Homo sapiens: one gene and its partners. The protein of the gene in region 3 interacts with the protein of the main gene of each other region in a biochemical or structural test. Each region holds a gene or a part of one and is shown on either strand. Other genes may lie near its edges.

Evidence for each region.
Region 1: the proteins of GOLGA2 (region 3) and RAB6A form a complex in vitro, tested with the Homo sapiens proteins (one study listed by BioGRID).
Region 2: the proteins of GOLGA2 (region 3) and USO1 form a complex in vitro, tested with the Homo sapiens proteins (2 studies listed by BioGRID).
Region 4: the proteins of GOLGA2 (region 3) and RUSC2 form a complex in vitro, tested with the Homo sapiens proteins (one study listed by BioGRID).

The regions. Positions count from the first base shown.
Region 1 is NC_000011.10:73,702,053-73,709,081, forward strand, and holds part of RAB6A (ras-related protein Rab-6A), read right to left. Parts: intron 5,462-7,029; coding exon 5,368-5,461; intron 1-5,367. UniProt on the Homo sapiens protein: The small GTPases Rab are key regulators of intracellular membrane trafficking, from the formation of transport vesicles to their fusion with membranes.
Region 2 is NC_000004.12:75,804,559-75,811,587, reverse strand, and holds part of USO1 (general vesicular transport factor p115), read right to left. Parts: intron 6,449-7,029; coding exon 6,285-6,448; intron 5,103-6,284; coding exon 5,016-5,102; intron 2,636-5,015; coding exon 2,537-2,635; intron 1,157-2,536; coding exon 1,049-1,156; intron 1-1,048. UniProt on the Homo sapiens protein: General vesicular transport factor required for intercisternal transport in the Golgi stack; it is required for transcytotic fusion and/or subsequent binding of the vesicles to the target membrane.
Region 3 is NC_000009.12:128,273,008-128,280,527, forward strand, and holds the start of GOLGA2 (golgin subfamily A member 2), read right to left. Parts: upstream 3,001-7,520; 5' UTR 2,970-3,000; coding exon 2,886-2,969; intron 2,490-2,885; coding exon of another isoform or gene 2,401-2,489; exon of another isoform or gene 2,349-2,400; intron 966-2,348; coding exon 843-965; intron 1-842. Other genes in the region: DNA repair protein SWI5 homolog, read left to right, coding at 2,401-2,489, 3,580-3,748. UniProt on the Homo sapiens protein: Peripheral membrane component of the cis-Golgi stack that acts as a membrane skeleton that maintains the structure of the Golgi apparatus, and as a vesicle thether that facilitates vesicle fusion to the Golgi membrane.
Region 4 is NC_000009.12:35,485,360-35,493,135, reverse strand, and holds the start of RUSC2 (AP-4 complex accessory subunit RUSC2), read right to left. Parts: upstream 3,026-7,776; 5' UTR 2,964-3,025; intron 2,018-2,963; exon of another isoform or gene 1,880-2,017; intron 1,706-1,879; exon of another isoform or gene 1,509-1,705; intron 1-1,508. UniProt on the Homo sapiens protein: Associates with the adapter-like complex 4 (AP-4) and may therefore play a role in vesicular trafficking of proteins at the trans-Golgi network.

The DNA of each region.
Region 1 (7,029 bases), on a different chromosome or scaffold from region 3:
GCTGACAGAACTAATCAGCAAAGCGAACAATACATCGTTGTTGTTATAGGTTTCAATATCCCCTTCTCAGTTATCGACAGAACTGGACAAAAAACTAGTAAGGATATATAAGGTGTTTTTTTGTTTATTGAGACAGTCTTGTTCTGTTGCTTAGGCTGGAATGCAGTGGCGCAATCATGCCTCACTGCAGCCTTGAACTCCTGGGCTCAAGCAATCCTCTGCCTCAGTCTCCTGAGTAGCTGGAACTACAGGTGCATGCCACCATGCTCAGCTAATTTTCAAAAAAATTTTTCTACTTTTGTAGAGACAGGGTTTCACTATGTTGACCAGGATGGTTTTGAACTCCTGGCCTCAAGTGATCCTCCCACATCCACCTCCTGAAGTGCTGGGATTATGGGCATGAGCCGCTGTGCCCAGCCAGGCTATATAAGGTTTGAGAATGCTGTCAAACATGTTAACTAGTATACCTGATAACTGTAAAAAAAATTCTTTTTCCAGTACATATAAGAACATTCAATAAGATAGACCATATGATAGGCCATAAAACTTGTCTCAATAAATTACAAATGACTGAAATATTACAGAGTGTATTCTCTGACTATAACAGAATTAAATTAGAAGCCAGTAACAATTAAGATTATCTAGAAATGTCCCTAAACATTGGGAAATTAACAACATATTTCCATATCTTCATTGCTGTGGTCATTATACCTGTAAATACATTTACCAAAACTCATCTAATAGTCAATTTAAGATGTATACATTTCACTGTACATAAATGTTTATCTCAATTTTATATATATTATTATTTTTTTTTTTCTTGAGACAGAGTCTCGCTCTGTCACCCAGGCTGGAGTGCAGTGGTGTGATTTTGGCTCACTGCAATCTCCGCCTCCTGGGTTCAAGTGATTCTCTTGCCTCAGACTCCCGAGTAGCTGGGATTACAGGTGTATGAGACCACATCCAGCTAATTTTTTAATTTTTTAGTAGAACTCCTGACCTCAAGTGATCCGCCTGCCTCAGCCTCCGAAAGTGCTGGGATTATAGGCATGAGCAACCATGCCTGGCCTAATTAAAAAAAATTGGAAAAAAAAAATTCAACATGGGTTCAGGTGAATGCAAAGAAACGGAAGATGAACATGTATCTATGTCTAAGGTGTAGTCAAAACAGCAAATGAAGGGCAATTCTCCAAGTAACCTGGCTTCTCTAGGGCTTGTTCAGTCTAGCTAAGAAAATTCTTAAGACAGAACCAAGGACATGAAATAAATCTTATTTTTATGGCAAAACAATGCAGCTCTAAGAATCTGCTAAAAAAAAATAAAGTATATTATCATTCATTCAATGAACATTTATGGAGTTTGTTGTTTAGTGGGGAGGCAGAATAAACTGACAATTAAAAAATTTCTGGCCAGATACAGTGGCTCACGCCTGTAATCTCAGCACTTTGAAAGGCTGAGGTGGGCGTATCACCTAAGGCCAGGAGTTTCAGACCAGCCTGGCCAACGTGGCAAAACCCTGTCTCTACAAAAAATATAAAAATTAGCTAGACACAGTGGCATGCACTTATAATCCCAGCTAGGCAGGAGGCTGAGGCATGAGAATCACTTGAACCAGGGAGGCGGAGGTTGCAGTGAGCCAAGATTGTGCCACTCACTCCAGCCTGGGCAACAGAGCAAGACTGTCTAAAAAAAACCCAAAACAAAAACAAAAACAATCTAAATTAAAAGTAAGAAGGGCTGGGCGCCGTGGCTCACGCCTGTATACCCAGCACTTTGGGAGGCCGAGATGGATGGATCTTGAGGTCAGGATCATATAAAAATACAAAAATTGGCTGGGCGTGGTGGCATGCGCCTGTAGTCCCAGCTATTTGGGAGGCTGAGGCAGGAGAACTGCTTGAACCCGGGAGGCAAGGTTGCAGTGAGCCGAGGTGGTGCCACTGCACTCCAGCCTGGGCAACAGAGGGAGACTCCATCTCAAAAAAAAAAAAAAAATTTCTAACATCAGATTATGGTAATAGTTGTACAATGCTATAAATTTACTAAAAATCGACCAGGCAGAGGGGCTCATACCTATAATCTCGAAATCTTCGAGGCCAAGTTGGGAGGATCACCTGAGTCTAGGAGTTCAAGACTAGCCTGGGCAACATGGCAAGAACCTATTCTCTGGAAAAAAATTAAAAATTAGCTGGGCATGGTGGTGTGTGCCTGTAGTCCCAGCTATTCTGGAGGCTGAGGTGGGAGAATCACTTGAGCCTGAGAGGTCAAGGCTGCAATGAGCTGTGATCATGCCACTGCACTCCAGCCTGGGCAACAGAGCAAGACCACAACTCAAAAAAATAAAAATAAGAAGGGCCAGGCATGGTGGCTCACACCTGTAATTCCAGCAATTTGGGAGACCGAGGCAGGCAGATCACGAGGTCAGGAGATCGAGACCATCCTGACCAACATAGTGAAACTCCGTCTCTACTAAAAATACAAAAAAATTAGCTGGGCATGGTGGCGCTCGACTGTAGTCCCAGCTACTCGGGAGGCTGCGGCAGGAGAATCACTTCAACCCAGGAGGCAGAGGTTGCAGTGAGCTGAGATCGTGCCACTGCACTCCAGCCTGGCGACAGAGTGAGACTCCATCTCAAAAAAAATAAATAAATAAAAAATAAAAATAGTCTGGGTGCAGTGGCTCACACCTGTAATCCCAGCACTTTGGGAGGCCGAGGTGGGCAGATCACGAGGTCAGGAGATCGAGACCATCCTGGTGAACACGGTGAAACCCCCTATCTACTAAAAATACAAAAAATTAGCCAGGCGTGGTGGTGGGCGCCTGTAGTCCCAGCTGCTCGGGAGGCTGAGGCAGGAGAATGGCGTGAACCTGGGAGGCGGAGCTTGCAGTGAGCCGAGATCACGCCACTGCACTCCAGCCTCGATGACAGAGCGAGACTCCATCTCGAAAATAAATAATAAATAAATAAATAACAAAAATAATAAAAATAAAATTGGAAGCAATCAAACATTATGAAGATACTAGACATCAGTGGTGCTTACTGTATGCTATCTGATAATTCTAGAGTTTCTAAACCTATGAGACTACTTAGGGTCAGGGCTAGGGGACTACAGCAATGCCTTCTTTAGCTATTAACCAGGAAAAGGACAGCCTGTACCAGGATATATAAGCAACTAGCTCACACCCTTATCAAAATGTCTCTAAAAGAGAAAGCCAGCTGGGTGTGGTGGCTCACACCTGTAATTCCAGCACTCTGGGAGACAGAGGCAGGCAGATCACTTAAGGCCAGGAGTTTGAGTCAAGCCTGGCCAACAAGGTGAAACCCTGTCTTTACTAAAAGTACAAAAATTAGCCGGGAATGGTGCTGCACACCTGTAATCCCAGCTACTGGGGAGTGTGAGGCATGACAATCACTTGAACCCTGGAGGCAGAGGTTGCAGTGAGCCGAGATTGCACCACTGCACTCAGCCTGGCTGACACAGCAAGACCCTGTCTCAAATAAAAAAATAAATAAATATAAGAGAAAATATATATAAGAAATAGAAAAGAGAAAGCCAGATGAAGCTACCCACTGCTTTGTCTTAGAATAGTGGCATATGGCTAATATAATGGTATTACACAAATTATTTAACTGTCTGTGGCTCCTATGGGTTCAGTTACGTATCACTTACTACGTTCCATACACATTGCTAGGTTCTGGGAATATATAATTCCGATGAGAGAGAGAGAGAGAGAGAGAGAGAGAGAGAGAGATTTTCAATATACTATGGTAAGTAATGATACTGTTTTTGCTGAGATCAGGTCGGTGAAAACACATAAGAGAATCAGGTGTCACAGACAGGAGGTAGGATGGGAAATGTCAGAGAAAATGTTGCTGAGGAGCTGACATCTAAACTGAAACTTATAAGGAGTACAATTAGGAAAGGGAAAAAAAATGAACATTCTAAGCAAAGGAAACAAAAGCATGAGCACAGGTATCAAACCATGACCATGAAACAATATGTTAATGAGGAAAGAATCAGTGATCATTCAATATTACTTACATTATGATTCAAGGCATGGAGGGAAATAAATTAAAAAATATAAAAACAATATAAAGACTTCTTCCTAAAGCTTTAACTATTTAAATGATGTTACTGTTACCCTCTGTTGATCACCCTCAATTAAGAAAATTATTGGTCTAGGCCGGGCGTGGTGGCTCACACCTGTAATCCCAGCACTTTGGGAGGCTGAGGCAGGCAGATCACGAGGTCAGGAGATTGAGACCATCCTGGCTAACACAGTGAAACCCCGTCTCTACTAAAAATACAAGACATTAGCCAGGCGTGATGCAGGCACCTGTAGTCCCAGCTACTCGGGAGGCTGAGGTAGGAGAATGGCGTGAACCTGGGAGGTGAAGCTTGCAGTGAGCCGAGATCGCGCCACTGCACTCCAGCCTGGGCGACAGAGCAAGACTCCATCTCAAAAAAAAAAAAAAATTATTGGTCCATAAATCTTATAAATCTGGGACCACTACCCTACATGATATACAGCCTTGAAGAGTTAAGCATGTGAGTCTCTGGCTGACCTATCTTGTAGAAAATGGCTTGATAATGTGACATCTCCCTATATTTTCCTGCCCTCCCCCAAAAAGACCTGTTGTAAACACTGTTCAAACACCAGCATTTTATTAAGGATAAAGTAACCAGAATTTACTTTTACAACAAGAAGTGGAACACCATTACTGACAGTAAATACTTGCTTTCATTTATCTCAGTCTTGGCATCAAACTCTGAAATAAAATTTACCGGCCGGGCATGGTGGCTCACACCTGTCCCAGCACTTTGGGAGGCCAAGGCAGGCGGATCACCTGAGGTCAGGAGTTTGAGACCAGCCTGACCAACATGAAAAAAACCCCATCTCTACTAAAAATACAAAATTAGCTGGGCATGGTGGCGCATGCCAGTAATCCCAGCTACCCGAGAGGCTGAGGCAGGAGAGCTGCTTGAACCCAGGAGGTGGAGGTTGCAGTGAGCCGAGATCACGCCATTGCATTCAAGCCTCGGCAACAAGAGCGAAACTCCATCTCAAAAAAGAAAAAAAAAAAAAAAAAGAAAAGAAAATTTACCTTTAAAGCAATGTAGTAGGAATGTAGTGACAATATGGTAGATTTACCACTTTGCAGTAGTTCTATCCACGATCTGAAGTTTGCAAGTCTTTTCTCTTTTTCCAAAAACTATGCCACATTTATATTTTTCACTGTTTGAAAATATACTGCTAGTTTGTAAGGCCTGCTCTTGCCAGGTGGAAGGAAACCTATACACCAGAGAATAGAATACTCACACAATTATTTCATATTTTTTCAATTTGGTAACCTCAACTCAACTTACCTGCTTTACATTGTATCCAGCTTTTGCACTAGTTTCAATAAACATAACATTCAGCTCTTTGGCTTTCCTCTCTCCCTCCTCAATTGACACTTGCCTGTAAAGAAACAAACAAACTTCTTACTTTTGAGACATGAGGCAGTATTATAAAGATTATAAAGAAAGCTCTGAAAATAACTTTCCTTGATATAAGGACTGGTTATACAGGTCACATTAGTTTAAAAATTCATTAATCTGCCACACTCTTGAAATTTGTGTGTTTCTGTGTGTGTATACTTAACATTTTTTTAAAGACTTTTTTTTGTTACTGATTTGCTTTCACTTGACTGGGCTCATCCTGTAATTTTTTTACTTTTACAAACTTAATAGCTTGAGGATGCTCGAGCCCAGGAATGTTGAGGCTGCAGCAGGCCATTATTAGGCCACCACATCACTGCACTCCAGTCTGGGCAACAGAACCTGTCTCAAAAAAAGAAAAAGCTAAAAACAAAACAAAACAAAAAACGCTTAATAGCTTGCCTCTTTCCCTTAATATCAGACCACAGGCTTTTAGCCTTAAAATTCAAATCTTTGTGTAAAACAATTTTTATGGCTAAACAATTTCTGTCAATTTGCTCCTATAATTTATATAACCATTCCCAAACTATTAGAATGCAAGTTGCTTTCCAATTTTACACTACTATGAAAATTGTTGCCCTAAATATCTGTGCTTAATATTTTGTGCACTGCAAATCATTTCCTTAGGTTAGATTTTGTGGTTTTCTTTTTTTTGAGACAGTTTTGCTCTTGTCACCCAGGCTGGAGTGCAATGGCGCGATCTCAGCTCACTGCAACCTCCAACACCTGGGTTCAAGCGATTCTCCTGCCTCAGCCTCCTGAGCAGCTGGGATTATAGGCGCCCACCACCACACCTGAATAATTTTTGTATTTTTAGTAGAGACAGAGTTTCACCATGTTGGCCAGGCTGGTCTCAAACTCCTGACCTCAGGTGATCCACCCATCTCAGCCTACCAAAGTGCTGGGATTAGAGGCGTGAGCCACCGTGCCCAGCCGATTTTGTGGATTTCTGTAAGTGAAGTAAGTGAGTCAAAGACATGTATGGTAAAGCCTCTAGATACAAAATATTAATACTTTAATATTACCTTTACAGGGTATTTTGTGATGCATTACAATTAGCACTATGTCTCAAATTGTGAGATCTCAAGTGCAAGATTATGTCATTTATATTGGTATTCCTAATGCTTAAGCTGGCAGATAAGTATTCCATAAATATACAAATGTTCTAATTAGCTAGATTTAAACTATCAGCTGACAAACCCTGCTTCCTACAACACAGAAAATGGGCAATGGAAGAGAATTTCCACAAGCTTCCATTTACTTGCAAGTGTGCCCTTATATCCTACCTCTAGTCCTATTACTATGAAAGAGTTGTCCTTATTCTCAAAACTTACATCTATGTATTAGATCCCACTCCCTTCTTGCCTACAAGAAATTATTATTCTAGAATTCTCCACTCCCTAAAAACAAGAACATTCTCTTACATAACACTCCAACTGTTAAGATTTTACATTTGCTTGTGTTATCTTCTCATTCTCTCTGTGTATATAAATTTTCTGAAACACTTTTAAAAAACTGTTTGAGAGTAAACCGCCAATCTGCAGACCT
Region 2 (7,029 bases), on a different chromosome or scaffold from region 3:
ATGCTGACAGGATTTAATGTGCCTATGTTCCACGGCTTATGGAAAGCCTACATGTGGCTTGTGTATTAGCTAAATTTGTACTCCTTGTTTTGTTATTGTGATTAGATGTTGATCTTAAAAAGAAAACACAGGCCGGGTGTGGTGGCTCACGCCTGTAATCCCAGCACTTTGGGGGGGGCCAATGCGGGCAGATCACCTGAGGTCAGGAGTTTGAGACCAGCCTGGCCAACATGGCGAATCCTCGTCTCTACTAAAAGTACAAAAATTAGCTGAGCATGTTGGCAGGTGCCTGAAATCCCAGCTACTCAGGAGGCTGAGGCAGGAGAATCGCTTGAATCTGGGAGGTGGAGGCTGCAGTGAGCTGAGATCATGCCACTGCACTCCATCCAGCCTGGAACACAAAATTGAGACTCTCTCTCAAAAAAAAAAAGAAAAAGAAAGAAAGAAAACAAAAATATTTTCAATAAATTTTACTTTTATAGTACATGCATATGTATGCTTATCTTACATATTATCATTATTTGAAATAGTATTTTAAAAGCTTCATTTGTGGCTGGGTGCGGCAGCTCACACCTGTAATTCCAGCATTCCAGCACTTTGGGAGGCCAAGGCAGGTGGATCACGAGGTCAAGAGATGGAGACCATCCTGGCCAACGTGGTGAAACCCTGTCTGTACTAAAAATACAAAAATTAGCTGGGTGTGGTGGTGCACGCCTGTAGTCCCAGCTACTCAGTAGGTTGAGGCGGGAGAATTGCTTGAACCTGGGAGGCAGAGGTTGTGGTGAGCCGAGATCGCGCCACTGTACTCCAGTCTGGTGACAGAGCGAAACTCCATCTCAAAAAAACAAAACAAAACAAAAAAACCCAAAACAAAAAAAATTTTCATTTGTGCCATCTTAAATCATCAATATAGGAGTGAAAATGTTGTGAGATAAAATTACACATCATTAGCTTTCTTCATAAATCTAAGAATTTGAAAGATATATAAAATTTCCTAGAGTTCATTTCATATCATATGCAGTAAATAAAAGTTGCACCAAAAACAAACCTTTAACTCTTTGGTCTCTTGTAATAATGCTGACAGTCTTCCTTCTACATCAGTAGTTTTGGTGGCTATTATAGTCTCGGTCTCTCCTTGTACCTCAACTGATTTTGCCTGAAATTAGAAATTGGAAAAAAAGATGTCTCTTAAACATTACAATCAATATGAACTCCCAAAGGGTTATTTAATTTTTTTGCCATTTTGATATTTTACTTTCACTAACAGAAAATATAATTCCTTATGTATTTATGTGCAACAAAGTGCTCTCCACTGTCAGATGAGCTGTTCCCACATGGAAGAGCATCAAATCTCATAAGAGTACGAGGAAGGCTGGGCTAAGGTGCCTCAAGGTAGGTAAGCCCAGAAAAGTAATCAGCAAGGCAGCTCTAATGTAACTGTAACCCAGCATTTAATAAACACAGAATATTTTTCAAAGCCTTTCCTTCATAAATTTCCTATAAGTCCATACTACCACCCTAGATAGGTAGATAAATTGAGCCAAATATCATTATTAGTGAAATGCAAATCTTTTCTCAAGTGCTAGAGGAGACACTCCTGAATAACAGTTTTTCAGTCTTTCCTTGTCTTTTTTCTAAAATACTAGGAAGTCGGGTAGTGACACAACAAATATCTAAAAATGTGGAAGTAGCTTTGGAACTGTGTAATGAGTAGAGGCTGTAAGAGAGGTGCATGGTAGACAAAGCCTGCATTACCTTGATGAGACTGTTGCTAGAGATATGGACATTAAGTGATTCTGGTGAGAGCTCAGAAAGAAAAGAGCGGAGTTGGAAAGAAGCTTCATGGTCATAGTGAGAAGAAGAATGCTGGCAGAAATATGAATGTTAAAGGTGCTTTTGGTGAGGTCTCAGATGAAAACTAGGAACATGTTACTGGGAATCGGAGGAAAGGCAATCCTTGTTATAAAGTGGCAAATAACTTGGCCAAATAGTGTTGCAGTGTTTTGTGGACAGCAGAACTTGTAAATAATGAATTTGGATATTTTACTGAGGTTTCTAAGCAAAGTGTTGGAGTGCAGCCTGGTTTCTCCTTGTTGCTTAAAGTTAAATGTGAGAGAAGAGAGATAAATTGAAGAAGAAATTGCTAAGCAAAAAAGAATCAGAATTAGAAGATTTGGAAAATTCTCAGTCTACCTATATTGCAAAAGTATGAGAAGGAATGTTCTGGAGAAAACAACAACGGTTTCTGAATATTTTATGACAGCAGAAAAACTGCCAGCTTGGACTGAAGGGACAGAAATAGAATGTAATACCAGCAAAATAAACTATTAAGTAACTGAATAAACTAATCTGGTGAGACTGACTATAAAACGACTGTCACCATGAACATGAAGCCTATGTTACTAGAATACCGGCTAGTAAGTAATCTAAAGAGAAGGTGCTATCTGATGAATTTGTTTCTTTTTAATTGTGGCTAAGAAATAATACATCAACCTTGTCTTTATTACCTTCCAGAGAAAAAAGAGAAAATACTTACAAACGCTTCTGTTTTCTGTAACAGTTCCTGCTTTTCTGTCTGTAGTTTGGTGATCTCCACAGATTGTGAGTTTAACTGAGACTTTAAAGTTGCCAGTTCCTAAGAGACAAAAATAGTTGAGTCATAACATTAAATGGTATTAAATTCATCAAGGAAATATTTACAGGGAGACATTTAAAAAAATGATTTACAACCTCCTACTTTTAAAATCTAACTCTAAAGAACTATTCTTGAATTTTGGGTTCAAGATGGAAAATTCAACACATTCATTTACCTCTGCTCCCTCCTGAAATCCCATGCAAAAAAAAAAAATCATAAAAGACAGGAAGGGAGGGGAGAAGGAAGAAAGAAAGGAAGGATGGGAGGGAGAGAGGAAGAAACCTACAAAAACAAGAACAGTAAGAGAAGAGAGCAATATAATTGGGGAATTTTGAGAAAGCAAGTAACAGTGATAACTAAATCAGCACACCTGAGAAAGCTGAAAGCTAGGATGACCACTGAGAAAGTTAAGATAGTACCTGACTTACAATGAATGCATTAACTACCAGAAAGGTTAGGAACTGGTATCATTAGATACCACTGGAAGTACAGATAAAAATGAGGTTAAAAACTGCAGGCCTGGTTAAAAGACTATTTAAGAAATAGATCATCAGATCCCTGTCTCAATCTTAGGCATCAGGCAACCGTTCCTCCTTTCCTGGATGAAGACTTGAGGTTTATTATGTGGCTGGGCAAAACAGGACATCTTTAGACTAGGGACCACCAAACACAGATGAAAGCAGTAGTACTATAATGAAAACCAGGGTATTAATTGAAAGTTTTTATTAATGTTGAATTTCCAAACTTCTCACCTTCTCCTCCCCCAAAAAAAGTACAGGAAAAGAAAGGCAATTATAACAATGGCTCTCAGCAGGAGTGATTTCTCCCCATATCCCCCCATCCCCGAGGACATTTGGTAATGTCTGGAGACACTGAGTAAGTGGTGGGACAATGGCAAGTAAAAGGCTCTTTTCTTTTGGTTCTCTTTAAAATTTCTATCATGTACATTTGTGGCTTTTCTAATTTATTTTGTTTAGTTATTAAAATGAGTTACAGTTTTCTATATATAGTACTTTACTATATATTATAAAAAACAAAACTGTCACTTAAAAAATACATATATTTTAACAATCTAAAGTTTATAAAAGTAAATAAACTGGAGAAAGTAAAAAAACTAAAAGGCAATTCTCTTTTTATAAAAATATCTAATTAAAGTTTCACTGGGAAAGATAATTAAATGGCTTATTTTTACTTAGAATTTACAAACTAAGGCTATATATTAGTAACTTAATTCCCTTTAATTTTAATACAGTTCTAGTATAGGTACACTTAATAAAACCAAAAGAGCATATTAATCTTCCCACACAAATAAAACATTGTGAACAAATATTGGAGACCTGAAAATCCTCAAATGATAAGTGATTCTTTTTTTAAAAAGAGGTCAGATATTTAGAATCTACTCTGAGGTACATGGACATTATCAAAATAAGACAAAATTTCTCTATGTTCAGTCATTTCTCTTTCAAAGCAGCCATGTCAGTGGACTAGGGCCAGTTGCTTAGTGGAGAGAGAAGGAAGACAGTTAGTCCTAGGTTAGTGAGGATGGTCATTTTTTAGTATTGCTTGGATTAAAAAAAAAAAAGTATGCATTTCTTTTATAATAAGAAAGAAAGGAGGGAAAGAAGAAAAGAGAGAGAAGAAAAGAGAGGAGGAAAGAAAAACAACCCCAGAACCTGTTTAGGGATAATATACTCTAGAGTTTTCTTCCAATTGCTACATTATTTAATTGTAAGTATACAGAGTTCATTTCTCTCTTTTGATTCTTTTCTTGAACAATACATTTAAATTTTTTCATTGGATAAAGGTAAATCTGTATGATCTAGTTTAACAGGAATTTATAAATACTATAAGCAAGTAGAAAAAAGTTTAACTTGCTTTTCTAGATGTTATAAATTACCACAGAAAAAGTTTATTTTGCTTTTTAGCTGGAGTCATTTAATTGAGATATAGGTAAGTTTACCTTTCTTCTCTTTTCCAATTCTAAAATTCTATATTTTCTAGACAAAACAGTTTAAAAACCCCATACATTTAGTCAAGCAATTATCATAGTATATTAAAATTAGGCATAAGATTTTACATTTTCATATTTGCAAGTTATAAATTTAAATTTTTCCTTGTTAGTTCACTGATAATCTATAAATAACATGGGTGAGATGCTGAGATTTTTTAAAAGGAATACCTCTGAAAAATAAAAACACAATAAAAAGCAAAGTACTATTACCATATAAATAGAAACAGCTTCTGGATTTTCAAATGGCTGTCTTAACTTAAATTTTACTTACATCTGCTAATATAGTTCTAGATTTGTGAAACTATAGGGCTGTTATTCTATTATAATTAAAACATGACAAAGTAGAATTGGATCAAAGTGGAAAATTACCTGTTTTAATTCTGCAACTTGTTCAGAATCTCTAGCTGAAACTATTGCTGAAGACTGTTCATTTGTGCCAGATGTTTGGGAAGATTTCTGCAAATAGCACAAAAATAAACTATAAAATATATTCAGTCTAAAGAGATGAGAAAAAAAAACAGAACTGTACACATATAAACTATATCATATGTGCTTACCAAAAAATTCACACCAACCTTTTAATTTTTATGCCCAAGATAAAATTCCAACACAGCACATATTGTCTACAACTTTTTCATGGCTAAAAATCCATTTGTAGGCTGGGTGCGGTGGCTCATGCCTGTAATCCTTGGGAGGCCAAGGCCAGTGGATTGCTTGAGCTCAGGAATGCAAGATCAGCTTGGGCAACACGGTGAAACCCTATCTCTACTAAAATACAAAAAATTAGCCGGACGTGGCAGCGTGCACCTATAATCCCAGCTACTCGGGAGGCTGAGGCAGGAGAACTGCTAGAACCTGGGAGGTGGAGGTTGCAGTGAGCCGAGATTGTGCCACTGCGCTCCAGACTGGGCTAACAGAGCGAGACTCTGTCTCTAAAGAAAAAAAAATAAAATTTTTATTTTACCGAGCAATTTATTAAATCTAAGCATTTACCTGCGTTCATATGGAGAAAGAGCATAAAAGCAAACATTTATTAAATAATTTCCATCTATTAGAAGAGTAAATTAAATCTCACAACAATGAACTAGACATTACCACTACCATTTTATAGATCAGGAAACAAGTTTAAAGAGGTTAACTAAATTGCTTAAATTCAATGAGCCAGGAAGCATTGAAGTTTAAACAGTTTGACTCTAAAGCTCATCCTGTAAAATCTTTTTTTTTTTTTTTTTAGATGGAAAGTCTCCCTCTGTCGCACAGGCAATGAGGTGAAGTGGGGTGATCTCGGCTCACTGCAACCTCTACCTCCTGGGTTTAAGAGATTCTCCTGCCTCAGCCTCCTGCGTAGCTGGGACTACAGGTGCCTGCCACCATGCCCGGCTAATTTTTGTATTTTTAGTAGAGACAGGGTTTCGCCATATTGGCCAGGCTAGTCTTGAACTCCTGACCTCAGGTGATCCGCCCACCTCAGCCTCCCAAAGTGCTAGGATTACAGGCGTAAGCCACTGTGCCTGGCCCATCCTGTAAAATCTTAACATATGATATTCTGGCTTAAGAGATCCAAGGAAAAAAAAAAAAGGCAGGATAATGAGAACCACTCTTGAACTCTTATTTTAACTTCTTAAACATTTACTTTACCATATTTTCAATCATAGAGTCCTTTTCAGTCAGCTGGCTTTGTAAAAGTTCCTGATTACGTTTTAATTCTTCTATCTCTTCTCGCAATCTACCAATTTCTTCTGGCTGAATGCCATTCATCTGAGCCCCCTCACTGTAAGAACCTTGATGCTGATTGTCTTTTCCTGTTAGACAGACATAACATTTTAAAAGCCAACGGGAAACTTCAGTTTTTCATTTTTGAAGTAGAAGATTCAAATATGTAATTTTCTTCATTCAATTACTTTGGCAGCACTTTTGCAATCACATTTCATCTTTGCAGAATGGTATACTGATAAAAATAGTGAACTGATAGTATTTTCCAGATTTCTGGGAGAAAAAACAGCACAGCCTTGACTAAACTGCATGGTCTGGTGATCTATGATTAAGAATTACAGTAATTTTAATTCCAATTCTGTCAACTGAATATGAGAAAATAAAATCCTTTTAAAAAATCTTCACAAGCACCGTAGGATAATACTATTTAAAAGCAGTGGAGCTCTTGCCATTTTCCAGGCACAACTTAAATTTTTCATTTATTATATCATTTAGTTCTCAAATGTTATTACTATCTTCATTTTGCAGAAGAGGAAACTGAAAGATTACAGCGGTCATTCTTAATCAGCTATACATTAGAATCACCTGGTGGGCTTATACTAGTTACTGATCCCTGGACCTAATCCCAGATTTATTAAATCAGAAACACTATTGTGGTATCAGCATTGGT
Region 3 (7,520 bases):
CTGTGCCATCCTTCCAAATGGCCACCTGCTGCCTTGCCAGGGGCAGAAACAAATAGATGGAAAAGTCCCCTGAACGATGCAGTCACACAGAGTGGAGTCACCTGACCAATGCAGCTCTTAATATCCTGTTTGGACCCTTCTCCTTAGGCCCAGGATGTGGGCAATGAATCTAGTAGAACTACAAACCTCCACCTCCATTTTAAAAACCAGACTTCTGAGTAAGGGTTCACTTGAACAAAGGGGGCTCCAGCTAAAAAACAAGTTTGAAAGACACTGATCATATCCAATGTCACCTCACAGAGGAGGAAACTGAGGCCCAGGGGAAGAAGTGGTTTTTCTGTGGTCACGCAGCAAGCTGGTGGCAAAGATGAACTCAAAAGTTAGATCTTCCCCTAATCCTAGCACCTGGGACTCTCCTCACCACACCCTGGGGCCCTTTCAGTGACTCCTAAAGGGATAGCCTGATGGCAAGTAGCTGTTCTCATTGGCCTGGCTTCCCTTTGAGACTGGAGATGAGGAAAATGAAACAGCAACTACCATTTCCTGGGTGTCCTGGGTGTTTAGGACAGCAGGCCCTGTACTAGGGATTAACATAAAAACAACAATAACAAATCTCATTTAAACTTCACAAGTGTAAGTAAAACAATACTTTATAGTTGTGAAAAGAGAGGCCCAAAAAGCTCAAGCAATTTGCCCTAAATCACATCCCTAGCAGATGGACAGGTAGGATACAAACCCAGAACTCTTAATCAGTACCCAACAGTTCTTCCACAATCATAACAATTACCCTCTACTGCCCCTTGGGCCCCCTGTCCCCAGGAGCCTGGCCATCCAAGACTCACATCCTCAGGTGAGTGGCAACCACCAGAAGTGGTTGTCTCAGGGTTACTGCCATTTTTTATTTTCTTCTTCTTTTTCGCTCCTGTAGGAACACCAGGGCTATTCCTCTGCTGATATTCTCTCAACTGTGGAAAAGAAGAGCAATAATATTCATGAGATCTACAAGCCCCCACAGTTACATCCTACTTTACAATTTTTCCAAAATACTCTTATATACCATCTGATTTAATGCCACTAACAACTCCACAAGTTCTTGTCACAATCACTTAGTGACTGAGAGGGATTGATACCATGGCTTAAAAAAGGCAAGAATTGAACTTAAACTCAGTCTTCTGACTCCAAGCTCTGGGGTTTTGCCACAAATCAGCAGCTGCCAGGGGCCAAAACCAGAGGCAGAGGTACTTTTCCACCTCTCATCCCAGAAACGGGATGAGAACACTTAGGGATTGGGTCCTAAGATCAAAAGCTGGTTTCACGCACTAATTACGGTTCCGAGGGGGACTGCGACATCACTACATTCCACTCCACCAAGGAGAATTCAAATATGAGGTGGAGAAGTCAAGCCTGGAGTCCCAGCTACCTGGGAGGCTAAGGCAGGAGGATTACTTAAGGCCAGGAGTTCAAGGTCAGACTGGGCAACACAGTGACACCCCCTCTCTAAAAATAAATATGTATCTTAAAATGTGGGCCGGAACATTAAGTCGGCAGGAACTGTACACTGTGTGGTTTAGAGTCATACATCCTCACACGTTTGGTAATGTTAAGAAATGCACCAATGCCTCTCAAACTTTTACATCAATGTATCCACATGGCAGAAGGCAGCCTTTCTGTTGAACCTGGGAATTTAACAGAAAGAGGACAACCCAAGCCTCATTTCAGAGAAAAGTCTGGTATACTCTTAGAAATTTATGTGACTGTCATCCCTAAGTACATTAATGTTTTTTCTCTCTCAAGAGAATAAAGGGAGACTGATGCTTCAGAAAGATGCCCCGTATTTATCCTGTGGCACTCCAAGTACCCCAGGTTGAGATGATATGAGGAAGATTCAAGCTGTCAAGTTCAGTTTCCCAAGACCTGTTCCACAGAAGATAAGCAGATCTCATTCCAGAGACCACTGAAGGGCACTCTGGTCCCAGAACCATGGAGAATTCGAATATGAGGTGGAGAAGTCAGAAAAAAATGTTAAAGTCTCTCTGGAGAGTAGAAGCCTGGGGGAAAACCAAACCAATCCCGTTCTCACATTGCCACCCAGAGATACTGCCAATGTTTTCAGTTCACGGGTGAAGTGTAGGCTTTTCACACTGTCAATGTCTATGTTAAGGGTGTAAGGCAGCCTGAAACCTCTCCCTCCTAGGTCCCATAGTCCCCAATCCCCTTCCAGCTGGAAATTTATGCTGTGACCAGAGGAACCAGAAGCGGGATGAGAACACTTAGGGGACTGGGTCCTAAGATCAAAGACTGGTCTCGCGCAACTAATTACGGTTCCGAGGGGGATTGTGACGTCACTACATTCCACTCCTAGGGGGAACATCAGCGCGACGTCCAAGTCGCCGCTCCGCGATGGGGGAGGGGACCGCAGGGCCAGGACCCAGGTCCTTGGAGACCCGAGACCAAAGAACCCCGGGAGGTCCGGTTTGGGGCGGCAGGAGGTGAGGGTCGAGTCTGGAGCGGGGGGCCCCGGGAGTCACGGGCCCAAAGTCACTGGCGAGGGCAGGGGCTGAATTGCTGGGGTCCTAGGTCCTTGGAGACGCCAGCCCAAAGAGCCCAGGGAGGTCGGACTTCGGGGGGCAGGAGGTGAGGGCCGAGTCTGGAGCGGGGAGCCCCGGGAGCACCAGCCCAAAGTCACCCGGGGGCGACTGGCGAGGGCGGGGGCTGGGCGGCTGAGGGGGCGGGGCTGGCTGACAAGACTTTGGTGGAGGGAGCCCGGACGCGCCGTGGGGAGCCCAGCCCGGTGTGCCTCAGGAGTGGCAGAGACTCTGGCCATGGTCCTGCCATCGGAGTGGGGCTGGGGCTGGGTCGGGGGGCCGCGACCCGGTGCACTTTACCTTTTTCTTCGCTGCGGCCAATTTGCTCTGTCGGGTTTCTTCCGACATCGCGGGGCGGGGAGGGAGGCGGGGTTGGGGCCACATCAGCGCGATCCCGGCAACCACTGCGGAAGTCAGTCAGCCACCGCGCAGCTGTGCGACGGAGCCAGAGGAGGCGTAACCAGGGCGATACTGGAGCGCAGAATGGGGGCGTGGCCTCAAAGATCAAAGCCCATTGGTCAATGAGAAATATGAAGCGGAAGGGGGCGTGGCTATGCAGCGGCGTGGCCAGAGGGACCTGTGGCGTCACAACAAAAGCTGCGCACGCAACCGCTGTCCCCGCCCACCTCGGGAGAGGGGCGGGGCCGGCTTTCCTTGGGTGCGCGCGCAGCTTTCTGTGCGCCAGTTCACACTCCGGGTCAGAGTTCCTGGCCCGGTGCACCTGAGAGGTCGCTCTCCGACTCCCGCGCTGGACCCTCTTGCGCCATTGAACCCCCTGATCCGGGGGCCTCGGACCCCAGGGCTCAGGAGGTGGGCGAGGAACGGACTCCACAGTTTCTTTCCTGACTCCTCACAGCCCTGCCCCAGACTCTCCCTTCCCAGAAATCACCTCCAAAGACTCCCATCCAGTGCTCCAGACAACCCCCGTCTCAGAACGCCCCCTTCCTAGAGGGTCTCTACCCTGATCCTGAGAGCGTGTCTGCCCCCTTTCCAGATGGATCCAGTCCCTGGCGCTCCTACTTCCCAACTGCTCCTCCTCCCGCATCCCCACAGTACCCCGTCCTCACAGCGGGCTGTGGGTCCAATCAGACTTTCCCCTCGGATTCCTCTCTAGGACTGAACCAAGACTTACCCGAAGTTGCCGCGGGGCCTTCCGATCCCCTGTGAGTATTTCTTCCCCCACACCCCCTTTCCCATCCTCGACCTTCCCTTGTGCGCTCCCGGCCCCACTCCCCATCCCAACAGCAGCCAATCCCCGCTTGGCCCTCTTCCATATCTTCTCCCAGTCGACTGAGAACCGCCAGGTCATTCCCGAATCCCTCCCCTTCCTTTCCTCATGCCCGCCAGTCTTCAAAGAAGTGTTATCCTGTCCTGTCCTAGGCTAACTCCTCTCCCTCCCCATCCTGTCTCCTGGCTCCTCAGATGCCTTTCACTCCAGTCCAGCACCAGCCATCTCTCCTCCTCGCTCTTTTCACCCCTCACCCAGCCCTGCCTTTAAACAAACCCATAGCTCCCCAGTCAGGAAAATGCTTGGCGTTCACCCTGGCCACTCCTTTCGTTGCTAATAGTCTCTCCTCTTCGCTGGCAAGCCACCCCCAAAACGCAGCCTACTCCTTCTCTCATCCCCCAGATGGAGTTGCCACTACAACTACCACCACTCTTAAGGTAGATCGTGAGGGCCGGGTGCAGTGGCTCACACCTGTAATCCCAGCACTTTGGGAGGCTGAGGCGGGCAGATCATTTGAGGTCAGGAGTTCAAGACCAGCCTGCCCAACATGATGAAACCCTGTCTCTACTAAAAATACAAAAAAATCAGCCGAGCGTGGTGGTGCAGGCCTGTAATCCCAACTACTCAGGAGGCTGAGGCAGGAGAATTGCTTGAACCCGGAAGGTGGAGGTTGCAGTAAGCCGAGATTGCACCACTGCACTCCAGCCTGGACAACAGAGCTAGACAAGTCTCAAAAACAAAAAAGAAGTTAGATCGGGAAAGACTTGGTATTTGTTCATTGATTTAGCAACTGCTGCAATGCAGGTGTATGCCAGATAGCCCCCTGCCCTCCAGGAGCCACAGGCAAAAAAATAATTCCAGGACAAGTATGCACATGGTTCTGAGATGGGGAGCCCAGGCTTGGGCTTGCAAAGAGGGCTCTCCAGAGATGGCAGGGTCAGAGGCAGGGCCTGAAGGGCAACTCACAGTGAGCTCAGATGACGATGACGGGGTGGCAGCCATAGTTTGCCAAAAGCACTGGGCTGATTGAGCTTCTCTCTGCAAGTGGGTTGGTATCCACTGTCTTTGACCATGCGGTAACTCACTGCAGATCATGCCTTTCTCATTCATGCTAATTCATTCCTTCTCTTTTTTTTTTTTTTTTTTTTTTGAGACACAGTCGCACTCTGTCGCCCGGGCTGGAGTGCAATGGTGCGATCTGGGCTCACTGTAACCTCTGCCTCCCAGGCCCAACCCATCCTCTTGCCTCAGCGTCCCAAATAGCTGGAACCACAGTTGTGTGCCATGACGCCTGGCTAATTTTTTTGTATTTTCAGTAGAGACAAATTTTCGCCATGTTGCCCAGGCTGGTCTCAAACTCGTGAGCTCAAAGCAACCTGCCCGCCTCGGCCTCCCAAAGTGCTGGGATTACAGGCATGAGCCACCATGCCCAGCTTCCATTCCTTCCATTTTTAAAAACAACGCTCGACCCGGCACAGTGACTCACGCCTATAATCCCAGCACTTTGGGAGGCTAAGGTGAGTGGATCACCTGAGGTCAGGAGTTTGACCAGTCTGCCCAACATGGTGAAGCCCCATCTCTACTAAAAATACAAAAATTAGCTGAGCATAGTGGTACATGCCTGTAATCCCAGCTACTTGGGAGACTGAGGCAGGAGAATCGCTTGAACCCAGGGGGTGGAGGTTGCAGTGAGCCGAGATCACCCTGCACTCCAGCCTGGGCAACAGAGCGAAACTCCATCTCAAAAAAAAAAAAAAGGAGGCTCTATTGAGCATTGTCCCATCAGCTTACTTTACATGCATCATCTTTCCAGTTCCTTCCAGCAACCTTTGAGAAGACGCTTTACTGTCCCCATGTTGAGGTGAGGCCTGTGAGTTCCAGAGAGATGAATATAGCCAGGACGTGGCAGAGCTGGGGGCTTTAAACTGAGAAACTGAGTTGTTTTTGGTTTTTTTTGTTTTTTTTTATTTGAGACGGAATCTTGCTCTGTCGCCCAGGCTGGAATGCAATGACACGATCTTGGCTCACTGCAACCTCTGCCTCCCAGGTTCAAGTGATTCTCCAGCCTCAGCCTCCCTAGTAGCTGGGATTACAGGTGCCCGCCACCATGCCCGGCTAATTTTTATATTTTTAGTAGAGACGGTTTTGCCATGTTGGCCAGGCTGGTCTCAAACTCCTGACCTCAGTGATCCACCCGCCTCAGCCTCCCAAAGTGCTGGGATTACAGGCATGAGCCACCGTGCCTGGGCTTGAACTGAACTCTTAAGCGGTACCTTGGGCTTGCTCCTCTCTGGGCCTATTTGCAGGAGCACCCTCCTGACCTCTCCTGCCTCTTTTTCTGTGCCCGCTCGGCTGGCTCCTTTGCTTCCTGCCACTCCTGAGGTAAATGTGGGCATTTCTGTAGGATCCAGCCCTACGGGGCTTGGTGGGCGTTCTCCCCATGTGCGGAGACAAGAGATTGTAAGAAATAAAGACACAAGACAAAGAGATAAAGAGAAAACCGCTGGGCCCAGGGGACCACTACCACCAAGACGTGGAGACCGGTAGTGGCCCAGAATGGCTGGGCACGCTGATATTTACTGCATACAAAACAAGGGGGGCAGGGTAAGGAAGGTGAGTCGTCCAAGTGATTGATAAGATCAAGCAAGTCACATGATCGTGGGCCAGTGGGCCCTTCCCTTCTAGGTAGCCAAAGCAGAGAGGGAAGGCAGCATACGTCAGCATTTTCTTCTATGCACTTATCAGAAAGATCAAAGACTTTAAGACTTTCACTGTTTCTTCTACCACTATCTACTATGAACTTCAAAGAGAAACCAGGAGTATGGAAGGAACATAAAAGTGGACAAGGAGCGTGACCATTGAAGCACAGCCCCACAGGGAGGGGTTTAGGCCTCCGGATGACTGCGGGCCGGCCTGGATAATATCCAGCCTCCCACAGGAAGCTGGTGGAGCAGAGTGTTTCCTGACTCCTCCAAGGAAAGGAGACTCCCTTTCACGGTCTGCTAGGTAACGGGTGCCTTCCCAGACACTGGCATTACCGCTTGACCAAGGAGCCCTCAAGCGGCCCTTATGCAGGTGTGACAGAGGGCTCACCTCTTGCCTTCTAGGTCACTTCTCACAATGTTCCTTCAGCACCTGACCCTATACTTGCCGGTTATTCTTAGGTTATATTAGTAGTGCAACAAGGAGTAATATTAAAAGCTAATGATTAATAGTGTTTATACTAATGATTGATAATTGTCCATGATCATCTCTATATCTAATTTGTGTTGTGACTATTCTTATTCTATTTTCTTTATTATACTGAAACAGTTTGTGCCTTCAGTCTCTTGCCTCAGCACCTGGGTAATCCTTTGCCCACACATTTCCGGGTGGCTCTGCTCTCCTCTTGCCATTCTCTTTCTACACACCTGCTCCAAGTTCTGACTCCCACTCCCTCAGCCCACCCCAGTGCCCACAACCCTCCTATCTCTCTCCAGCCCTGACCTTTCTTGGGACACCCAGAGCTGCCTGCAGAATCTTTGCCTTCCCACTTGCCAAGTCTGAAATCACACTCAGCCTCCTAACCAGGACCACAAAACCAACTCCTCCAACTGCCCTTGCATCATCAGAGGAACCCCAAGCTCTTGAAGTGTGCTCTGCCTCTTCTCCTTTCTAATAGCACTACTCATGGTTGCATCTGTTCTTTTTAAAAAAAAAAAAAAAAA
Region 4 (7,776 bases), about 93 Mb from region 3:
GGAGAGGAGCAGAAAAGATAACTATTGGGTACCAGGTTTAATACCTGGGTGATGAAATAATCTGTACAACAAACCCCTGTGAAATGAGTTTATCTATATAACAAACCCTCATATGTACCCCTGAACCTAAAATAAAAGTTAAAAAAAAACCCAAAAAACAAAAAAAGGCATTATGCTAACCGAAATAAACCAGTCACAAAGAGACAAATAGTGCATGATTCCACTTATATGAGGTACCCCCAGTAGTCAAATTCAAAGATAGAAAGTAGAATGGTGGTTGCCTGGGGCGGAGTAGGGAGAAATGGGGAGTTAGCATCTTACTGGTACAGAGTTTCAGTCTGGGAAGATGAAAAAAAGTTCTGGAGATTGTTATCAGTAATGGTTGTACAATAATGTGAATATATTTAATGCCACTTAAGAATTATTACAATGGTAAATTCTATGTTATATATATATATATTACCACCATAAAGAGTAAATATGGTACAGCACAGGTTCTGCTGAGTTATTTTGTTGTTGTTAGGATTCCCTTCTACCCCATCACCTAGCTCTATCAGAGCAATGTTGACATCTGGCTACTCAAAATGATGCTCTCGTTTCGTATGACGGACTCATTTGACAAAAATTATATTAAATGCCAATGTCTGAATGGGTGTTTTTTTTTTTTCCTGGGTAACTTCAACACTGATCAATCAAGACCATTTCTAGATAGCCTGCCCTTACCCTAACATGAAGTGAACCATCTCTTCAGTCAAGTGACTTTTAGCAGGGTGCATAGTCATTGTGTATGAGTAACAGGAAGAAAAGGGTGAGTTATTATCCTAAATTTGCAGATAAGCCCAGAGAGAAAAATAGAACACATAAGCCCTCCCATGAACTTGCCAGATTTAGCAAGTAAAAATACAGGACTCCCTGTTGTTTATTTGAAATTCAAATTTAACTGGGCACTCTGCGTTTTATCTGGCAACACTGAAGTATTGGAGGTGAGGAGAAAAATAACCCAGGGTGTTCTGGGGTAACTGAGGTCTTAACAGGAAGCCTAGACAGGAAAAAGTAGAAAAGGCCATTAAAAAGATACTGTTAAAAAAAAATTGTATTGCTTAATCCATCCAGATCAGGAGCCCCTCCCCACACTGGGTTTCTATGATCCAAGGCTTTATTTTGAGACAGAGCATTGCTCTGTCACCCAGGCTGGAGTGCAGTGGCATGATCTCAGCTCACTGCAACATCTGCCTCCCAGGTTCAAGGGGTTCTCCTGCCTCAGCCTCCTGAGTTGCTGGGACTTCAGCCTCCTGAGTTGCTGGGACTACATGTGCACACCACCATGCCCGGTAATTTTTGTATTTTTAGTAGAGATGGGGTTTCACCATGTTGGCCAGGCTGATCTTGAACTTCTGACCTCTAGTGATCCGCCCACCTGGGCCTCCCAAAGTGCCGGGATTACAGGCTGAGCCACTGTGCCTGGCCTGATCCAAGACTTTATAAAGACATGTAAGAGGGTGGGAGACAGAAAGCGGAAAAGGATACATCAAAACTAGCAATGGATGAATGAGAACATGTCCAGCCTCCAGTTAAGGCAACTGTGGCTTCAAAAAGGAATCTTAAATACCAGCACAGAAATCAGAGGGATCCTAACCTGGCTCAAAACAGAAGAGAAACAGTGGCTGGCCATACAGCAGGACGGGCATAACTAACAGAATACCAGGTATACTGTTTGGATCTGCTCTTCCTTCCATTAAGCCATCCACCACTGCTTAATATCTAAGGAGCCGGCTAAGAAAATCCAGTCACTACTTTTATTTGCTAATACTTTGAGCCCCAGTTACAATAATGCCACTACTAATTAGGTAACTACTTTCTACCTTATCAACTCCTACAGCTTTCCAGCCATTGTTTCATCCCTCAGCGATACCACCTGCTTCCGCGTGGAACCCAAACCCCCAGGAAACTAAATCTGCTCAGGTCACCCACCTAGGAATAAATAAAAACAGGTTTCAGGCCCTTTGTCCTTTGTAAATTCCGCCTTTTTTTTTTTTTTAAGGCCTGTGTTCTTTATCACGGACACTGTTCACATAGTGGTAATCCTTGCCTGACTCAGATCTACTTGTTCCTGCGTTTCATTCCTCCGCTGCTCAATTACTTGTTCAAAACGCAAAGGACAACTGGTAGTGAAGACCCTCCACCAGCAACACTACCATGTGCCAGGCACCGTGCTGGGGACCGGGGATACAAAGATGAGTAGTGTACCGTCCTTGCCCCCAGGACAGTTCCCCGTGTCCGCAGGGCCGGCCTGGAGGGCCACAGCCAACTGTGGGCAACAGGATCACCGTGCCCTTCGCGGCAAGTGAGTGCAGTAGTAGGGGACGGTTACTGCCAAGCCAAAGGTTTTCTCCAGGTAAAACTGGATGACAGAGAGACAGAGACTGAAGCAACGCCGGCGCCGGGCGGATAATAAAGGGAGGCAGGGGCTAAAAGGGTGGAGGGAGCAGAGGACCCGGCCGGGAACTGGCAGTAGGGAGGCCCCCGCTGCAGTCGCCGGCCTGGGTGCCGGGCGGCCACGCTTCCCCAAAGCCGTCACAGGGACTTGGGGTACCAAGGTGACTACTGGGCGCGAGTCGTTTTGTGGGGGGAGGGTGTCCCCAAGGGGGCAGTTTGAGGAGACGGTTGGGGATGCATCTGGGGTGGCGCCCAAAGGGACGGTGGGTGCTGGGTGTTTGAAGGTCCGGTGGACGCAGAGCTGAAGGGTCAGGAGAAGGCCAAGGGTCAGAAGGGCTGGGGACGAGGTCTGCCCAGGGGGTCGGGGCGGACGCAGAGGGCGGGTGCAGCCGAGGGGGAAGGGCTGAAGGGAAGGGCAGGCGCTGAAGGCACATAGGTGGGAAGACAGGCCCTCCCCTAAGGGAGACCTTGGAACGCGGGGCAGTGGGTCTGTGGGACCCTGCCCGCCTCCGGAGAGGCGTTCCTACCTCGTTTCTCGCCTCAGCCTCGTCCTTCCGCGCCGGCGGCGGCGGCGGCGGCGGCGTGTCTCGCCCTCCAGGGGTCGCGTTGCAGGCTAGAGGCGCCGGCGGCCCCTCCCTCCGGGCGGGTTGGAAAGGCCGGCCCCTGTCGGCGTGGCGCGATGGTCCGATCTGGGTTGCCCTCAGGCCGCCCCTCCGGGCGGCGCGTTGGTTCGGTCCGCCCGGCCTAAGGTGCTCGCCCCCTCCCCGGCTCCCGCAGCGATGGGCGCAGCCGAGTCACGCGCAGAGCTTTCCCGCTAAGGGAGCGGAGAGGCTTCCGCCGTGGCCCAATCTTCTGCGGCCCGCGCCCGCCCCCGCGGGGTGGTGCCTGGCGACGCGCGGCTCCCGGGTGCTGGAACCCAGGGAAACCTTCCGCGGGCCTCCAGGGCCGGTGGGTGTGAGTCCCAGCTTCGCCTGAGGCGGCGGTTCTCAACGCTGGCTTCCCAGTAGAACCTAGTGTGGAAACTAACCAAACAACAGAAGGAGGGCTGACCTCACACTGGACCGACTCAGAACCACTGGGGTGGAGTGGGGTGGGGTGAGGTGGGGTTGGCCTCCAGTGCATAGCCAGGGTTCGGAACCCCTGATGAAACGTAGAACCCATGCGCCCCCTGCCCTTCAGGGCCGGATGTGTGGGGGACATGGAAGATGCCTGTGTGTGACTCCTGCTGTTTACAGCCAGAGGGGGATGGGGCAGGCAGTCCTGCAAATGTTATGGGAAACCCACTGTATTAGTCCGTTCTGACACTGCTATGAAGAAATACTATGAAGGAAAGAGGTCTGACTCACAGTTCCGCATTGTTGGCGAGGCCTCAGGAAGCTTATAATCATGGCAAAAGGCAAAGAAGTAGCCATCCTTTTCGCAGGGTGGCAGGACAGAGTGAGTGCAGGCAAGGGAAATGCCAGACGCTTATAAAATCATCAGATCTTGTGGGACTCACTCACTGTCACGAGAAGGGCGCAGGGGAAACCAGCCCCATCATCCAATTACCTCCACCTGTTCCCGCCCTTGACACAGGGGGATTATGGGAATTACAATTCAAGATGAGATTTTGGGTGGGGACACAGCCAAACTGTTACAGGTAGTTAGGCATGAGCGGGGCAGGAGAGGGTTCTCCCCTGCTACCCACTAGGGATGTTGGGTGATGGTTCTGAGGCAGGAGAATAGGGACTGGAGGCAGGGAACCTAAGACTGGTTCATGCCAACTTCCTGGAACTAAATTGAAAGGAAAACCCTAACTTTCCACACCTAAGTAACAAACCCCCCACCCAACTTTTCTGCCCAGCAGATGGGAAATTGGCTATCTGCAACCAATTAGACTGACTGCAGCCGAGTCTAACTTTGCATAGAAGTATAACTTTGTAACTTCACCCTAGCCTCTGATTGGTTGCTTCTTGCAACCAATCAGATGTTTGCACAGGTGTGCGACCTTTGTAACTTCACTTCAGCCTCTGCTTGGCTGCTTTCTGCAACCAATCAGACTGATTGCAGGCTACGAATTCATTTACATGAGGTGAGCATGAAGTGGCGGGTAACTTCTAGGGGGTATTTGGACCCAAGAAGATTCTGTTTCCTGGCCCTTGAGCCGCTGCTCCGGCTGCTCCCACACTGTGGAGTGTGCTTTCGTTTTCAATACATCCCTGCTTTCCTTCTTTTGTTCCTTCATTCTTTCTTTGCTTTGCTGGGCGTTTTGTCCAATTCTTTGTTCAAAACGCCAAGAACCTGGACAACTTGCAGTCAGACCCTCTACCAGTGACAGTTCCATAATTACCTCATTGCTTCTTTAAAAAGGATAATTCGGCTGGGCCAGGGAGAGGCCATTTCCTGATGGTCCACACATGTTAACATCAAAATGCTAATTGAATGCAGGCCTCAGGGAGAAGCAACTTTCTGGGCATGCGTGTTAAGAGACAAAAATGGTGACGTATGATCTCCTGGGGGCACCCTCCACCGGAAAACGGGAAGGAAAGCACTGCGCATTCGGGAAGCCCACTCTAAGGGAAGAATCATGGGAAAGAGGCCAGCCTGTAAAAGTCCTAGGATCTTGGTTAGGCACTTGACCTTCTCTCTTTAACCTTCACGTGCCCGCTTGGGTTTCTTCCAAGCGCACCTTCCTTTCTTTCCTGTTCTAAGGCCTTTTTAAATAAACTTCCATTCCTACTCTGGAACTTGCCTTGGTCTCTTTTTCTGCTTTCTGCCCCACAGTCGAATTCTTTCTTCTGATGAAGCAAGGACTAAAGTTGCTACAGACCCATAAGGATAGGCTGCAGGTAACTTGGGGTAACTCAGACCTCTTCCACCACTAACAAAACCATATCACCCATTGAGAAGACTCTTAGGCTAGACGCGGTGGCTCACGCCTGTAATCCCAGCACTTTGGGAGGCTGAGGCGGGCGGATCACCTGAGGTCAGGAGTTTGAGACCACTAGCATGGTAAAACCCCGTCTCTACTCAAAATACAAAAATCAGCCGGGTGTGGTGGCGCATGCCTGTAATCCCAGCTACTCGGGAGGCTGAGGAAGGAGAATCACTTGAACCTGGGAGGCGGAGGTTGCAGTGAGCTGAGATTGCGCCATTGCACTCCAGCCTGGGCAACAGAGCAAGACTCTGTCTCAAAAAAAAAAATAGAAGACTCTGTTCTAGGTTCCATACTCACTGAAAGAGTTAGAGACTGGGGTCACAGTCAAGGAAGCAGATAAATGTCAGGATATGTAGCTTGTCTTCAGGCTTCACAGAAGTGGTGTGAGCTGAATTTTGAAGAATGAGTGGGAGGTAAAGAGAGAATTGGCATGTGCAAAAGAACTGAGGGGCAAAATGACCAATGTGATTGAGAAGTGTGGGAGGCAACGGAGACAGCTGAGGAGAGCTGGTCAGGGTTTGGTGATGAAACGCCTATGACTACTAAGGAGTTGGGAGAGATACTGAAGGGCTTTATTGCAGAGGCAGGAATGACAAGATCAAATATGAATGTTAGAAATAAAGTTCTAAGGGCTTAAATAAGGGTGACATGGAGAGAGCTAGCATTGCCAGTGGGGAACCAATGAGGAATTGCATGTTTGCACAGTGTGATCCCCCAGTTAAATAGTCTGGGTTGGGGAATTAAGCCAAACCAGGCCAATTAGAATTACTTCTCTAAGAATTTGGAATTGGGAGACAAAGAGCTACATCTCTGCTCAGACTTAAATTGGACTTAAGGGTAATTTGGGAGCTATGCAGTAGTCATCTTCTACTTGCCCATTTGGCCTGAGCAGCATTGAAAACCAGTTTGCTGAGAAAGAAGATCAATCAGTTGCACACAGAGAAGCAAGTCTAGACACAAAAAGACTGCTCCCTAGGTTCTTGGGACCTTCCAGCAGCTGGTTCCACTTCTTTCTGAGGCCCAGCAGGATTCCTTCCCCAGGATCATGATGCATCCTTCTATCCATTCATAGGAATCTCATTTTTGGCTTCAGCGAGTGTGGGTTACTTCCTGTTGTTTGTGTTAAAGAATAACTTTCAAAAAGGTAAAATAATGAGCCTTATGCAAGTATTTTTATTTTTTATTTTTTGAGACAGGTTCTCTGTTACCCAGGCTGGAGTGCAGTGGTGCGATCATGGCTCACTGCAGCCTCGACTTCCGGGCTTCAGCGATCCTCCCACCTCAGCCTCCAGAGTAGCTGGGACTAAAGATATTTTTTGCATTTTTGGTAGAGACAGGGTTTTGCCATGTTACCCAGGCTGGTCTTGAACTCCTGAGCTCAAGCAATCCACCCGCCTCCACCTCTTAAAGTGCTGGGATTACAGACATGAGCCACTGAGCCTGGCAGAGCCTTATACAAATATACAATGAACATATTTCAAATTTTTTATTTAACTAATGAGGGAACCAGTAAGATACTAAAACCAGTTCAAATGAAGATTTGACTTAGAAATGTCTTTTCTCTAATGGACAAAATTTATTTGCATCACCCAGAACAGGAATCGTTTGCACTGTTATGGGCAGAAAATCTTTTGTATTATTTATTGTCAGTATTCTGAAGTTAACTTCTAACTCCAACGAGTTAGAAAATAGCTTACTTGTAAAATAGGAACCTAGTCAAAGGAAATCAAAGGCTCTCACCGCTAATATAATCAAATAATTCCCAAAGATTCTTAACAGCACCCAACATTCCATTAAAAAGACACCCATTTCAAAGTATTTCTTAAGTTTTCCAGACACTTGCAAATCAAAGAATATACGAAAACACAGAGACATAAGAAAGCATGATGCTGGCCGGGTGCGGTGTCTCACACCTGTAATCCCAGCACTTTGGGAGGCCAAGGCAGGCACATCACCTCAGATCAGGAGTTCAAGATCAGCCTGGCCAACATGGTGAAACCCCGTCTCTACTAAAAATACAAAAATTAGTTGGGCATGCTGGCAGGTGCCTGTAATCCCAGCTACTCAGGAGGTTGAGGCAGGAGAATCGCTTGAACCCGGGAGGTGGAGGTTGCAGTGAGCTCAGATTGCACCATTGCACTCCAGCCTGGGTAACAAGAGCGTAACTCCATCTCAAAAACAAACAAACAAAGAGGCTGGGCACGGTGGGTCATGCCTGTAATCCCAGAACTTTGGGAGGCAAAGGTGGGTGGATCACCTGAGGTCAGGAGTTCGAAACCAGCCTGACCAACATGGTGAAAAGCCCACCTCTACTAAAAATACAAAATTAGCCAGGCATGGTGGCACATGCCTGTAATCCCAGCTACTTGCCTCTCTGAGGCAGGAGAACTGCTTGAACCTGGGAGGTGGAGGTTGCAGTGAGC